Linked DNA regions of Homo sapiens: region 1 is linked to region 2. Evidence: fine-mapped expression QTL. Tissue or cell type: whole blood. Region 2 holds a variant in brackets; the other region holds the start of a gene. All regions are shown on one strand. Distances are between the middles of the regions.

Region 1 (8,114 bases), 140 kb after region 2:
GCTGTCACATTGAAAACATGGAATTGCAGAATGTTCAAGGTAGAAGGATCGTTAAAGATAATTTAGTCCAACTTGACCCATATGGCATAGAGATATATGCAGATCTGCATGTCCAGTTCTGCAGCTAGAAACTGACACTGAGCTGAATTAAACCACACGGAGAAGAACTGAGAAATTTAAAGTAAAAGGTTAGGAAATTCGAATGTATATATATTCCAGAGGCCCAGTGTAACATGAAGAAAGTCAAGGAGAGGGACTCTTTCATCATGGAAGATCTGGGGGCAGAGGGACTTAAAAGGTGGGACAAGCCAAAGATGGTGACCTAGGGTGGTTTTTATGATATAACCTTTTTTCTCCTCATTCCCTATGAAATCTTCAGCCAATTCCATATTTCTCACTAATTCAAGTGAATATCTGGGGGGATGGCTTATGGAGGGAAATAAGGGAGCAATTGTTTGGATTATATTCCAATTTTTTATTTGCATTAGAATACCTATATGTTTATACATTTTTATTTGCATTAGAAATACTTATATAAGTTTATACACTTTCATTCTAACTTTTTTTGAGGGAAATGTATCTCCATAAGTGAATAAGAAGTTAAATTACTGATTATGTTTCAATTGGTTAGTTTGATGCTTAACAGTCTTTCACTTTTCCACTCTTGCATATTTTGTAGAGAGTAATACAAGCTCTTCATGATAGGAAGGATCTGCATATGTTTATTTTATAGTAGAAAAATGGTAAGATTTTCCTGTCCCCAATTTTCTCTCCAAACAAATCCAAATTTCTTGTATTTTGGAATGACTCTGGGTAAAGTGGTTGTTTATAGAAAGTCTCTTATAAAATATTGAGGATATTATTAGATATTATTACATTTCCATGAATATGTTTCCCTTTATCTTTAAGAGAAGAAGAGTCAGAAATATAACCTATCAGAGTGGGAGATGGCATAAAAGCTGGACTAAATGGATTGCTAGATGGAGGGCAAACCTGGTGTGAATGACTCAGTGAGAAGCTTCGGGAGTCCTGAGGGTAGCAGAAGGGTGCGGATTTAAAGTTACTGTTAGAGTGGCTGGAAAATGGGAGACCGGTTCAGAGACATTTTATCTACTTAAAAACTGTGCCTTTTGTATCACGTCAAAGTGAATGCAAAACAAAGAACAAAAGGGTTAAAGGCTCAGGTTTAAATCCCAGGTATATGTACATTTCAATTGAGGTATTTTTTTTTTCTTTTCTAAATGATCAGTACACTTATTCTTTCTAAAGAAAATACTTTTCTTAACTACTCTCTATTTTTAAACTTCTCCCACAAAGATGAGAAAACATTTAAAAATCATTGGGGCTATTTTTCTGTTTACCGAGTAAAGAGAATCTCTAAACCATATTTATAACTCTTACTCTAAATATTTGCATTTACCCTCATGCCAGAGCCCGTTGATGACTGACTAAACAGAGTTTCAAAGTTTGAAGAACAGGAAATTTAGAAATGACTAACAATTATGTAGGTTTATTTCTCTCAGTATAGAATGTTCATATAGAATTAATGCCAGAGGTTTTCAGAGAAAAATGCAGAAATTTTTACTTTGCAAATCCAGAAGATGCAATTGTTCAAGTATTTCTTAAGAAACATTAATTTTAAGTATGCAGATATCATTGAGAATTAAATATTTTAATTTCTAAACTATTAATCTTTTAGTAGGATGCACATATGCAAAATGCCTCATTAGTACTGTAAGAAAAGATTCTTGGCCGGGCGCGGTGGCTCATGACTGTAATCCCAGCACTTTGGGAGGCCGAGGTGGGCGGATGACGAGGTCAGGAGATCGAGACCACCCTGGCACACGGTGAAACCCCGTCTCTACTAAAGATACAAAAAATTAGCCGGGCGTGATGGCGGGCGCCTGTAGTCCCAGCTACTCGGGAGGCTGAGGCAGAAGAATGGCGTGAACTCGGGAGGCGGAGCTTGCAAGTGAGCCGAGATAGTGCCACTGCACTCCAGTCTGGGCGAAAGAGCGAGACTCCATCTCAAAAAAAAAAAAAAAAAAAGAAAAGATTCTTTTAGGTTTCATCAATTTTGTTTTAAAGCTAGGGCTCTTCATTAGATATAGGAAAATCAATTCAAAGTTTCTATTCAGTCATGATGAATTTGAGATTTTTTTAGGTTTCTTTGTATTTAACAATATATTACATTATAATGTTGTGGTGAAAACTAAATGGACTAATATTATTCTTTTCATTTGTTAAATGAAAAAGTATGCACAAAGTATATGTGAGAGTGACAAAGGCCTGAATTTGTCAATTAGTAACAATTGTATTCAACAGTAAGGATTTTATGTTTGGGTAGGCCTTTCCCAGGGACTTCTACAAGGAAAAAGCTAGAGTTGGTTACTGACTTCTAATAAATAATGCCTACAATTTCTAGGAAGTTAAAAGTTGACATAATTTATCCAAGAAAGAATTATTTTCTTAACTTAGAATAGTTTCTTTTTTCTTTTCAGATGTAGGTTTTTCTGGCTTTAGAAAAAATGCTTGTTTTTCTTCAATGGAAAATAGGCACACTTGTTTTATGTCTGTTCATCTGTAGTCAGAAAGACAAGTCTGGTATTTCCTTTCAGGACTCCCTTGAGTCATTAAAAAAAATCTTCCTATCTATCTATGTATCTATCATCCATCTAGCTTTGATTTTTTCCTCTTCTGTGCTTTATTAGTTAATTAGTACCCATTTCTGAAGAAGAAATAACATAAGATTATAGAAAATAATTTCTTTCATTGTAAGACTGAATAGAAAAAATTTTCTTTCATTATAAGACTGAGTAGAAAAAATAATACTTTGTTAGTCTCTGTGCCTCTATGTGCCATGAGGAAATTTGACTACTGGTTTTGACTGACTGAGTTATTTAATTAAGTAAAATAACTGGCTTAGTACTAATTATTGTTCTGTAGTATCAGAGAAAGTTGTTCTTCCTACTGGTTGAGCTCAGTAGTTCTTCATATTCTGAGCAAAAGGGCAGAGGTAGGATAGCTTTTCTGAGGTAGAGATAAGAACCTTGGGTAGGGAAGGAAGATTTATGAAATATTTAAAAAATTATTCTTCCTTCGCTTTGTTTTTAGACATAATGTTAAATTTATTTTGAAATTTAAAGCAACATAAAAGAACATGTGATTTTTCTACTTATTGAAAGAGAGAAAGGAAAAAAATATGAAACAGGGATGGAAAGAATCCTATGCCTGGTGAAGGTCAAGGGTTCTCATAACCTACAGAGAATTTGGGGTCAGCCTGTCCTATTGTATATTATGGCAAAGATAATCATCATCTCATTTGGGTCCATTTTCCTCTCCATCTCTGCTTAACTGAAGATCCCATGAGATATACTCACACTGAATCTAAATAGCCTATCTCAGGGCTTGAATCACATGTGGGCCACAGCAGGAATGGGAACATGGAATTTCTAAGTCCTATCTTACTTGTTATTGTTGCTATGTCTTTTTCTTAGTTTGCATCTGAGGCAACATCAGCTTTTTCAGACAGAATGGCTTTGGAATAGTAAAAAAGACACAGAAGCCCTAAAATATGTATGTATGTATATGTGTGTGTGCATGCGTGAGTACTTGTGTGTAAATTTTTCATTATCTATAGGTAAAAGCACACTTGGAATTAGCAATAGATGCAATTTGGGACTTAACTCTTTCAGTATGTCTTATTTCTAAGCAAAGTATTTAGTTTGGTTAGTAATTACTAAACACTGAGAACTAAATTGCAAACACCAAGAACTAAAATGTTCAAGTGGGAAATTACAGTTAAATACCATGGTAATGAATAAAAGGTACAAATCGTTTAAACTCTTATGTAAAATTTGATAAGATGTTTTACACAACTTTAATACATTGACAAGGTCTTGTGGAGAAAACAGTTCCAGATGGTAAATATACACAAGGGATTTAGTCAAACAATTTTTTGGCAAGAATATTATGAATTTTGTAATCGGTTGGCAGCCAATGAAATACAAAGATGAGTCTAGTTAATAATCTACAATTATTGGTTAAAGAAGTATATTAGTGCTAATTTCCCTCCGTTTGTCCTAGCTTTTCTCTTCTGTCAACCCCACACGCCTTTGGCACAATGAAGTGGGTAACCTTTATTTCCCTTCTTTTTCTCTTTAGCTCGGCTTATTCCAGGGGTGTGTTTCGTCGAGATGCACGTAAGAAATCCATTTTTCTATTGTTCAACTTTTATTCTATTTTCCCAGTAAAATAAAGTTTTAGTAAACTCTGCATCTTTAAAGAATTATTTTGGCATTTATTTCTAAAATGGCATAGTATTTTGTATTTGTGAAGTCTTACAAGGTTATCTTATTAATAAAATTCAAACATCCTAGGTAAAAAAAAAAAAAGGTCAGAATTGTTTAGTGACTGTAATTTTCTTTTGCGCACTAAGGAAAGTGCAAAGTAACTTAGAGTGACTGAAACTTCACAGAATAGGGTTGAAGATTGAATTCATAACTATCCCAAAGACCTATCCATTGCACTATGCTTTATTTAAAAACCACAAAACCTGTGCTGTTGATCTCATAAATAGAACTTGTATTTATATTTATTTTCATTTTAGTCTGTCTTCTTGGTTGCTGTTGATAGACACTAAAAGAGTATTAGATATTATCTAAGTTTGAATATAAGGCTATAAATATTTAATAATTTTTAAAATAGTATTCTTGGTAATTGAATTATTCTTCTGTTTAAAGGCAGAAGAAATAATTGAACATCATCCTGAGTTTTTCTGTAGGAATCAGAGCCCAATATTTTGAAACAAATGCATAATCTAAGTCAAATGGAAAGAAATATAAAAAGTAACATTATTACTTCTTGTTTTCTTCAGTATTTAACAATCCTTTTTTTTCTTCCCTTGCCCAGACAAGAGTGAGGTTGCTCATCGGTTTAAAGATTTGGGAGAAGAAAATTTCAAAGCCTTGTAAGTTAAAATATTGATGAATCAAATTTAATGTTTCTAATAGTGTTGTTTATTATTCTAAAGTGCTTATATTTCCTTGTCATCAGGGTTCAGATTCTAAAACAGTGCTGCCTCGTAGAGTTTTCTGCGTTGAGGAAGATATTCTGTATCTGGGCTATCCAATAAGGTAGTCACTGGTCACATGGCTATTGAGTACTTCAAATATGACAAGTGCAACTGAGAAACAAAAACTTAAATTGTATTTAATTGTAGTTAATTTGAATGTATATAGTCACATGTGGCTAATGGCTACTGTATTGGACAGTACAGCTCTGGAACTTGCTTGGTGGAAAGGACTTTAATATAGGTTTCCTTTGGTGGCTTACCCACTAAATCTTCTTTACATAGCAAGCATTCCTGTGCTTAGTTGGGAATATTTAATTTTTTTTTTTTTTTAAGACAGGGTCTCGCTCTGTCGCCCAGGCTGGAGTGCAGTGGCGCAATCTCGGCTCACTGCAAACTCCGCCTCCCGGGTTCACGCCATTCTCCTGCCTCAGCCTCCCGAGTAGCTGGGACTACAGGCGCCCGCCATCACGCCCGGCTAATCTTTTGTATTTTTAGTAGAGATGGGGTTTCACCGTGTGCCAGGATGGTCTCAATCTCCTGACATCGTGATCTGCCCACCTCGGCCTCCCAAAGTGCTGGGATTACAGGAGTGAGCCACCGCGCCCGGCCTATTTAAATGTTTTTTAATCTAGTAAAAAATGAGAAAATTGTTTTTTTAAAAGTCTACCTAATCCTACAGGCTAATTAAAGACGTGTGTGGGGATCAGGTGCGGTGGTTCACACCTGTAATCCCAGCACTTTGGAAGGCTGATGCAGGAGGATTGCTTGAGCCCAGGAGTTCAAGACCAGCCTGGGCAAGTCTCTTTAAAAAAAACAAAACAAACAAACAAAAAAATTAGGCATGGTGGCACATGCCTGTAGTCCTAGCTACTTAGGAGGCTGACGTAGGAGGATCGTTTGGACCTGAGAGGTCAAGGCTACAGTGAGCCATGATTGTGCCACTGCACTCCAGCCTGGGTGACAGAGTGAGACTCTGTCTCAAAAAAGAAAAAGGAAATCTGTGGGGTTTGTTTTAGTTTTAAGTAATTCTAAGGACTTTAAAAATGCCTAGTCTTGACAATTAGATCTATTTGGCATACAATTTGCTTGCTTAATCTATGTGTGTGCATAGATCTACTGACACACGCATACATATAAACATTAGGGAACTACCATTCTCTTTGCGTAGGAAGCCACATATGCCTATCTAGGCCTCAGATCATACCTGATATGAATAGGCTTTCTGGATAATGGTGAAGAAGATGTATAAAAGATAGAACCTATACCCATACATGATTTGTTCTCTAGCGTAGCAACCTGTTACATATTAAAGTTTTATTATACTACATTTTTCTACATCCTTTGTTTCAGGGTGTTGATTGCCTTTGCTCAGTATCTTCAGCAGTGTCCATTTGAAGATCATGTAAAATTAGTGAATGAAGTAACTGAATTTGCAAAAACATGTGTTGCTGATGAGTCAGCTGAAAATTGTGACAAATCACTTGTAAGTACATTCTAATTGTGGAGATTCTTTCTTCTGTTTGAAGTAATCCCAAGCATTTCAAAGGAATTTTTTTTAAGTTTTCTCAATTATTATTAAGTGTCCTGATTTGTAAGAAACACTAAAAAGTTGCTCATAGACTGATAAGCCATTGTTTCTTTTGTGATAGAGATGCTTTAGCTATGTCCACAGTTTTAAAATCATTTCTTTATTGAGACCAAACACAACAGTCATGGTGTATTTAAATGGCAATTTGTCATTTATAAACACCTCTTTTTAAAATTTGAGGTTTGGTTTCTTTTTGTAGAGGCTAATAGGGATATGATAGCATGTATTTATTTATTTATTTATCTTATTTTATTATAGTAAGAACCCTTAACATGAGATCTACCCTGTTATATTTTTAAGTGTACAATCCATTATTGTTAACTACGGGTACACTGTTGTATAGCTTACTCATCTTGCTGTATTAAAACTTTGTGCCCATTGATTAGTAACCCCTCGTTTCGTCCTCCCCCAGCCACTGGCAACCAGCATTATACTCTTTGATTCTATGAGTTTGACTACTTTAGCTACCTTATATAAGTGGTATTATGTACTGTTTATCTTTTTATGACTGACTTATTTCCCTTAGCATAGTGCATTCAAAGTCCAACCATGTTGTTGCCTATTGCAGAATTTCCTTCTTTTCAAGGCTGAATAATATTCCAGTGCATGTGTGTACCACATTTTCTTTATCCATTAATTTGTTGATTGATAGACATTTAGGTTGGTTTTCTACATCTTGACTATCATGAATAGTGTTGCAATGAACACAGGAGAGCTACTATCTCTTAGAGATGATATCATGGTTTTTATCATCAGAAAACACCCACTGATTTCTATGCTAATTTTGTTACCTGGGTGGAATAATAGTACAGCTATATATTCCTCATTTTAGATATCTTTGTATTTCTACATACAATAAAAAAGCAGAGTACTTAGTCATGTTGAAGAACTTTAAACTTTTAGTATTTCCAGATCAATCTTCAAAACAAGGACAGGTTTATCTTTCTCTCACCACTCAATCTATATATACCTCTTGTGGGCAAGGCCAGTTTTTATCACTGGAGCCTTTCCCCTTTTTATTATGTACCTCTCCCTCACAGCAGAGTCAGGACTTTAACTTTACACAATACTATGGCTCTACATATGAAATCTTAAAAATACATAAAAATTAATAAATTCTGTCTAGAGTAGTATATTTTCCCTGGGGTTACAGTTACTTTCATAATAAAAATTAGAGATAAGGAAAGGACTCATTTATTGGAAAGTGATTTTAGGTAACATTTCTGGAAGAAAAATGTCTATATCTTAATAGTCACTTAATATATGATGGATTGTGTTACTCCTCAGTTTTCAATGGCATATACTAAAACATGGCCCTCTAAAAAGGGGGCAAATGAAATGAGAAACTCTCTGAATGTTTTTCTCCCCTAGGTGAATTCACCTGCTGCTTAGAAGCTTATTTTCTCTTGATTTCTGTTATAATGATTGCTCTTACCCTTTAGTTTTAAGTTT
Region 2 (8,114 bases):
TTCTAATAAAAAAAAAAAAAAAACTAGAAGAGGTCTTGAGTATAGTTACCCTTGAGATTAAGTCCTGCAACAAAGATCAGGAAAAGGGTTTGGTCTTTCCATTCAAAGTCATTATTTTAGATGGCTTCAAGATAGCTACGATAAAGGTCTAAAGGAACTGGCATAGGAGCAAGGCAGCAAAGCAGTAAATTAGGCTTGATAATTATGTAAGAAAGAACTTTGGGTGTAGTTACCAGAAGCAAATCAATCAGAAGACTACATTTTTAGAGGAATTTTATTAATCATACTAAATCTGGCTCAAATATCATTGTTCGGGTGTTAAAACAGAGGGTAACTGTCCAACCCCAAGCTTGCATAAGTAGAAAAATAGAGCATAAAACCTTAACAGCTCCCCAGTACCCACACAGGATGTGGCCATGGAGAATGATGGACAAAAAAAGAACATTTCAGAAGCTCGTATAAGGAGCTGTACTAAAGACTGGACAGGGAGTTTCTCCTGAAGACTAGAATTGGAGTTTCATCAGAACTTTCTTCAGTTTCAAGGAGATGGGCCGCAAAATGTTTATGCAGTATTTCATCATTATTATACATGAATAGTATTGCTCAGTATCACATTTTTTTTCTGAATGAGAGAATGTATTATAGTTATCTGTCCCTGAGTTACCACTATATATTGGGTTTGCAGGGATGGGGGTGACAATAAAGATAATTTGTCTTTTTAGTTCTTAGGTCACATCTGTACCTAATGAAGAGAACTGCACATTTTCTGAAAATCCTAGACTTTGAGCCTGTTCCAGTAACTGGTTAAAACTTTAGATTGTCTCCTTTGGGACAGGGTATGTTCTGTGTGTGGAAAGACAGGTAAAATACATGTTTAGTGATCAGAATAGTAGATTCTTGCAAATGCTAAATTCTTCTGGCCACACAGCTATATTTCCATGCCTCTCTTGCAATTAGGTATATGGGTTAGGTGTGCTGATTAGGTTCTAACCAGTGGAATGTGAGAAGTGATGCACTCCTATTCCAGCTCTGGCCTATGGAAACATCACATGAGCAATCCAATATATCCCACTCCCCATCAACTTGAGGCAGATGAGCAAATTTGCACTGGAAACTATGTGTTAAAGATGGCAAAGCCGCAAGATAGGACTCCTGGTTTCCTGAATCTTCACTTGGAGGATACTTGCTTCCCAATTAGAGACACTTGTGCTAGAGTTTCCTGACTCTTCACTGGGAGGATACTTGCTTGCCAATTAGGGACACTTGTGCTACAGCTCATACGCATTCTTTTGTGTTAGGCCACTGAGATTTCAGAGCGTGCCCTAATAAAGACCTGTCCCTCTTTCTCCAGATGCAATCGTTCATTACCTAATTCTAATTTTTATACCACAGGAGTAGGCCCACAAATCAGGCTAGCCAAAGTATCCTATCATTCAGCCATAGTGATTAGTTCAGGAATGGGCAGATTAACAAAACTGAAGTTAATCAGAGATAGTCTTATCATTTGGGCTAGCACTATCAAGAAAAAGACACCTGCTTCTGGAATAAGCAAAAAAAAAAAAAAAAAAAAACACAAGCTACATCTGGCCTTTGGTCATCATGTCGAGTGAACCTGCCTAAGAATGAAATCTTACAGGGAAACAGAGGCAGTCTCAATGATACTGCAGAAGGGGAAGATATCCCATGAATTGAGAAATATTTCCTGGGTTTCTACTCGATTGAAATTCCAAGAGGTAAGGGATAGATACTGCCAGGAAGACTTGGGAATTCAAAAGAGGAGCTCTCTGAGACTAGAGTCACATCCTGACACGGCTCTTCTCCAATGTGCTGGAGTCCTCAGCATCTGCTGGTCTTGATTCACTGATGGGGGCAACCAGTGTCCCCTTAAGTGTCCGGGCAGAAACATACTGTACCTTGGTTTTAGAAAGTAGGTTGGCAGGCATCTTTCCTCATTCCCATCAAGGAGTTGGTACCTTCCACAGTGTAAGTTATTTTCTCTGTTCTAGAGCTACTACAAAGTGCTAGGGAAGGAAAATCTCCTAAAGCAGTCTGTCATCATGAAGGCCAAATTATGTAGCAGAAGAGCTTGGAAAAAGATTAAGACGGTGGTGGGGAGGACCTTTGTCCTGGTGGCTTGAAGCCATAGGGAAAGAGGTTCACTAAATGCCAACAAATGCTAAAAAATAAAAAAATAGACAAAACAGCGAGCCAGTGGCTTGTGCTCTGCTTTCCACCTGAAAGTTTGCCCAACATAAGCAATTATAATCAAGTAGAAATTGAAGCATATGTTTAAGCAGAGAGGACCAGGTAACATTGATAACCACTGTCCTCCCAGCCACTGCCTTAATTAGGCTTTCATGAGTTTTCACCCACATTATTGCAATAGTCAATCTCCCTGCCTCTGATCCTATTATACTCTACTTTATCCTCCACATTGACACCTGAGTTACTTCTCTACCTTGTAAAAACAATTTATTTCTGAGTACAAAAACACTACATGTTCATTGTAAAATACTAAGAAAATACAAAAAAGCACACATACCAGAACATGCAATTCTATCATCTAGAGATATCCACTGTTGACATTTTAGTACAAACCTTTACACAGTTGTTTTCTCTGTGTATTTTTAAATGAGAATGCCACTGTTGTATTTAGCATGCTTTTTAAAATTTTTTATTTATTTTTATTTTTCAATCCACCAGTAAGATATCCCGGAGCATGCTTTTTTTTTTTTTTAAACTTAGTATATGTGAGCATTTTCTCATGGAATTAAATGCCCTCTACAATATTATATATAATTAATATATCAATTTACTTAAGACAGGTGTTGCAAACTGGCAGCCTATAGCCAAATGTGATATATGAACATGCTATATACTTTGTCATTACAGCATTTCAGAGTTGTTTGACTTTTGAATGCCTTTATACAATGCATGCTGTCTTCAATTCTCTACAGTTTCCATAAATTCCTATTATGCCCAGTCCTTATTCACTCATGTCACCTATCTTTTTTTGTTGTTGTTACTGTTTCGGTGTGGGCTTTTAAGAAATTTTTGACATTTGAGTTGAAAACAGCAATTTAGCCAGAATAAGCATGGATGTTCATTCACTTAGTATTTGTTGCCTACCTGCTACATACCAGGCACTGGGTTAGGTGAGAAAATGGTTAGCAAAACAAACACGGTTCTTTCTATCTTGAAGCTTATGGTCTAGCATGAGAGACACACAAATGAAATAACTGCTGCAAGGGAAACCTGAGCTAGAAACTTTTGTTTTGTTTTGGGGCTTCCCTGAGGAAGTAATATGTGAACAGAGATCTATAGTAGGAAATAGGCCAAAAAGCAGAGAAGAATCTTCCTAGCCAAAGGAATGTATATGCAAAAGGCCTAAAAAAGGAGGTATCAAACTGTGCCAAAAGAGCTGAAACACTGAAAGTGAGAATGTTTGCAAGATGAGGCTGGAGAAGTAAGTGGAAGACAGATGATTCAGGGCCTGTGGACCATGCTAAGGGTTTTGAGATACATGTTGATAAAGAATCTACCCTAGTCTTCTTTTCCTTAGGGA[A/C]ACATCCTTCTCTTTTTAATCACTCCTTATATGGCATGATTTCGAAATCCCCTTCACCCTCTTACTACCCTTCTCTAGCATTAATAATTTTCTTAGTCCACTGCTCTGGAACCAGAGCCCAGTAAAAATTAGTTAAGCTGAAGGCTGGGGATGGCAGTCTAGCACAAATAGTAATTAACTACTGGGCACATTAGTAGAACAGAGCTGCTACCTAAATAAATCCATTTAAAGTCAACTAAATGTTATTTGGGTAATATGTCCCTCATGTTAAATTTGCCCAAATATATATCTCACCTCTTAAAATTCGTTTAGTTTGAAATTAAAATTAGTATTGTTTTTCTGCATGTACTCCTAGGTTGGGTAAAGAAGGGAACAAGGGAATGGGGAAACGTAGAGATTCCTGGATAACAGAGAAAGACAGCTTGAGAATAAAAGTATGCAAAAGATAATCTACAACAAAATAATGCACTTAACTCTTGTTACTAAACAAATAAGCTACCCACATTTTAGTTTTCTGTTTTGTTTTATGTTTGTCAGTTTAGCAATTTTTGTCACTGTTTGGAAGACTTAGAGTGGTTATTGCATAGAACAACTCCTTACACAGAGATTTGCAAGTTTCTGAATTTTGTACTTTCAAATTGAAAATCAGGAGAAACATTTTCAAGGTTCATATTCAGACCAAGTTAGTATATTAACAACTAATAACAATATTAAAAGTTAGAACAATTCCTTTCCTCTATCTTTCTCAGGACAAATCGAGTTTATTAGAAAACTAGGGAGTGATCTGGTGAAACTGGAAAGAATCCAAGGAGTTCCAGGGAAATCTTTCATTCATTCATTTGTAGATTATTCCACAAATGTTTATTAAGTATCTATGGTATTTATACAGCACCTACAGTACTATTTAGGGCACTGGGTATAGCTTACAAACTGCTTAACTCTGAATATCTTTTGTGCAAGGAATAAGTAGTATAATAGTCCCTTGAAATACAGGAATTCACCTAGAGATCTTCTCAGATCCTCAGATGTGCACGTTTTATATCATGTAACTTAATCCAGAAAATAAAGCATAAGCAAACTGATATTTTTACACAGCAATGAATTTTGAAAGCAGGCAGAGCTTCTAGTCTCATATAAGGGGCTTAGAACTTGCCACTGCATCCTAATAACAAGTAAAAAGCTGAACAAACAAAAATCAACAACTCTTCTTAACTTCATCAGAAATGAGGACACAGGGAAAACTGCTGCCCTCAAAATTGGAGAGACAGATAGGAAGATACAGGAAATCATAACCAGAGCAGAAACCTCTGGGAACCAGTGCTGGGGTAGGAAAACCTGAACTGTAATTGATGAAATGCTGAAGGCTCACTGTGGACAAGCCTGAGAGTCAAAAACTCCAGGGAAACCCAGTCATAGAGGAGCCCTCATACCTTTGTGAACTATACTTCCAGTAGGACTAGTATAGCATACTCACAAAGTGAACTCAGTTACGATGCCAGTTGCAGGTTGGGAAGTACTGGCCTACAGGAATCAGAGTCCATTTCTCCTAGTAAACAGAATACGTAGGTCCAAGAACAATGTAGGTGCAGTGTATGTACCTATTACTATTAGACCTAATGCCCAGGTTGACTATATAATTGACTACATGATTTATTGTCCAAATGGAGATACCTTTAAGAATAAAATGAAGCATCAATCAAATATACATAATGTTTAATAATATGTATGAGTTGACAAATTGGTTTTATTATATTGGTGAACCTATAAGATAGTTCTGTTTAAAAAATATTTTCAAGGGTGGGCACAGCAGCGCATGCCTGTAATCCCAGCAATCTGGGAGGCCAATGCGGGTGGATCACTTGAGGCCAGAAGTTGAGACTGGCCTGGCTAACATGGTGGAACCCAATCTCTACCAAAAATACAAAAATTAGCCGGGTGTCATGGTGCACACCTGTATTCCCAGCTGCTTGGGAGGCTGAGGCAGGAAAATCACTTGAACCTGGGAGGCGGAGGTTGCAGTGAGCCTAGATCACACCACTGCATTCCAGCCTGGATGACAGAACAAGACTCTGTCTCAAAAATTAATTAATTAATTAATTAAATAAAATATTTTCAAAAATAAATCTGGGTACACTAGAGAAAATTGAAAACAAACTGCTTAATACTGATTATCAATACATTAAAAAGTTACAACCATAATAAATTCTGTACATATTCATGTATTTTAATCATTGTCTTAACTGTATCTGTCTCATGTCATGTTACAGGTATATTTTACTTCTGAAGAATATATTTTTATATGATTATAATTTTTAATAAAAGTATCTCTAAACTTCCACATTTCATTTTACAGCTAATGAATTTAAAATTGCTGATGCCCTCAACTGACTCTTCTCAGTTACCTCAGTATTTTAATTTTGGAACATACTCTCTCTACAGGTTAATATAGGTATCTGGTAAACTCAGAGCAAATTATACCAAATGGAGTATATTCCCAATTCTGATTTTATCTTATTAAATATTTAAATATTTCAGCTCAAATGTTTTCAGTTATTGTCTTTTTTGCCTCCACTTAGAGGATCTTTGACAAATATTTTTATAAGACAAAGCTCATTAAGTTATCTCTGTTTTATGATTCCTTAAATGTTATATCAAATGTATGTATGTATATATGTATGTATTTGAGACAGAGTCTTGCTGTGTCACCCAGGCTGGAGTGCAGTGGCACGGTCTCAGCTCACTGCAACCTCCCCCTCCCAGGATGAAGCGATTCTCGTGCCTCAGCCTCCTGAGTAGCTGGCATTACAGGCATGCACTACCACATCCAGTACATTTTTATATTTTTAGTAGAGATGGGTTTTCACCACATTGGCCAGGCTGGTCTCAAACTCCTGGCCTTAAGTGATCCGCCTGCCTTGGCCTCCCAAAATGCTGAGATTACAGGTGTGAGCTACCACGCCTGGCCTTTTATGAAATTTATATAAATTTGATAATGAATAATAATAGGCATTTTTTTTACATTCTGGTACTGAATATAAATTTATCCAAGTAAAAATAGAAGCTCCACAAAAGAATCTTCTCAGAAGTCAACAGTATTTATTTCCTGTTGCTGTTGCAATAAATTGCATGATAGTGGCTTAAAACAACACAAATTTATAATCTTACAGTTCTGGAGGTCAGAAGTCTGAAATGGATTCCACTGGCTTAAATCAAGGTGTTGACAGGATTGCACTCCTTATCTAGACTCCAGGGCTGATTCTTTTTACTTTTTCTGGATCCTGGATGTTACCAGCATTCCTTGGCTGATGGCATCTGCCTCCATCTTACAGCGCATCACTGCAATCTCTGCTTCCATCATAACTTTGTCTCTGACTCTTCCGCCTTCCTCTTCCATCTTTTAAAGCCCCTTGTGATGACATTAGGTCTGCCTGCATAATGCAGGATAACTTTCCCATCTCAAGAGTCTTGTCTTAATCATATCTGCAAAGTCTCTTTGCCATGTATGGTCACATATTCATCCCGAGATTAGATTGTGACCAGGCATGCAGCCGGGCGAGGTGGCTCACGCCTGTAATCCCAGCACTTTGGGAGGCCGAGGCGGGCCGATCGCGAGGTCAGGAGATCGAGACCATGGTGAAACCCCGTCCCTACTGAAAATACAAAAAAAATTAGCCGGGCGCGGTGGCGGGCGCCTGTAGTCCCAGCTACTCGGAGAGGCTGAGGCAGGAGAATGGCGTGAACCCAGGAGGCAGAGCTTGCAGTGAGCCGAGATCGCGGCACTGCACTCCAGCCTGGGCGACAGAGCGAGACTCTGTCTCAAAAAAAAAAAAAAAAAGATTGCGACCAGGCATGCTTTCATATGATTGCTGGGTCACATGATAGATACATGTTTACCTTTTTAAAAGTGGGCAAAATATTTGAATAGACAATTCACTAAGTAAGCTATATGGCTGGAAAATAAACATATGAAATGATGCTCTACTATATACAGAAATATAATTAACTTTATATATCGATCTGGTATCTTGGAACCTTGCTAAACTCCTGTATTAGTTCTAGTAACTTATTTATGCACTCCATAGGATTTTCTTCACAGAAATCATGCCGTCTGTGAATGAAGGGAGTTATACTTCTTATTTTCCAAATGGAGATTTTATTTTTCTTGCATGACTTCACTGGCTAGAACCACTACTACAATGCTGATTAGAAGTGGTAAGATCGATATCCTTTCCTTGTTCCTGATCGTAAGTGTGATGTTAACTGTAGATTTTTCACATATACTGTTTATCAATATAAGGAAGTTCTCTTCTGTTCTCTGTTTTCTGACAGTTTTTGTCAGGCATGTATTTTGTATTTTCAAATACTGTTTCTGTATTTGTTGAGATAATCATAGGATTTTTCTTTCTTGTTTTTACAATGAGTTACACTGATTAACTTTTGAATATCAAACCAACCTTGTATTTTTGAGATAAACCCCACTTGGTCATGATGTATTATCCTTTTTGTATATTATTGTATTAGCTCTGCTAAAATTTTGCTGACAATTTTT

The links. PIP is the estimated chance that this variant, and not a neighbour inherited with it, causes the effect.
Region 1: ALB starts here. The variant in region 2 is the best candidate, but not a certain one, in a credible set for the expression of ALB in whole blood (TOPMed, PIP 0.56).

The regions. Positions count from the first base shown.
Region 1 is chr4:73,400,205-73,408,318 of GRCh38, forward strand. It overlaps ALB (albumin), which reads left to right and starts at 4,083. Exons shown (of 15, transcript NM_000477.7): 1 at 4,083-4,202; 2 at 4,912-4,969; 3 at 6,425-6,557. The coding sequence starts at 4,124. RefSeq lists enhancers at 2,218-2,438, 3,711-3,750 and promoters at 2,977-4,138, 3,718-4,123.
Region 2 is chr4:73,262,177-73,270,290 of GRCh38, forward strand. The region is part of intron 1 of ANKRD17-DT (ANKRD17 divergent transcript); the gene reads left to right. LOC124900180 (small nucleolar RNA SNORA3/SNORA45 family) reads left to right here and starts at 1,784; the gene lies at 1,784-1,908. The variant A/C (reference allele first, on the strand shown) is at 3,566.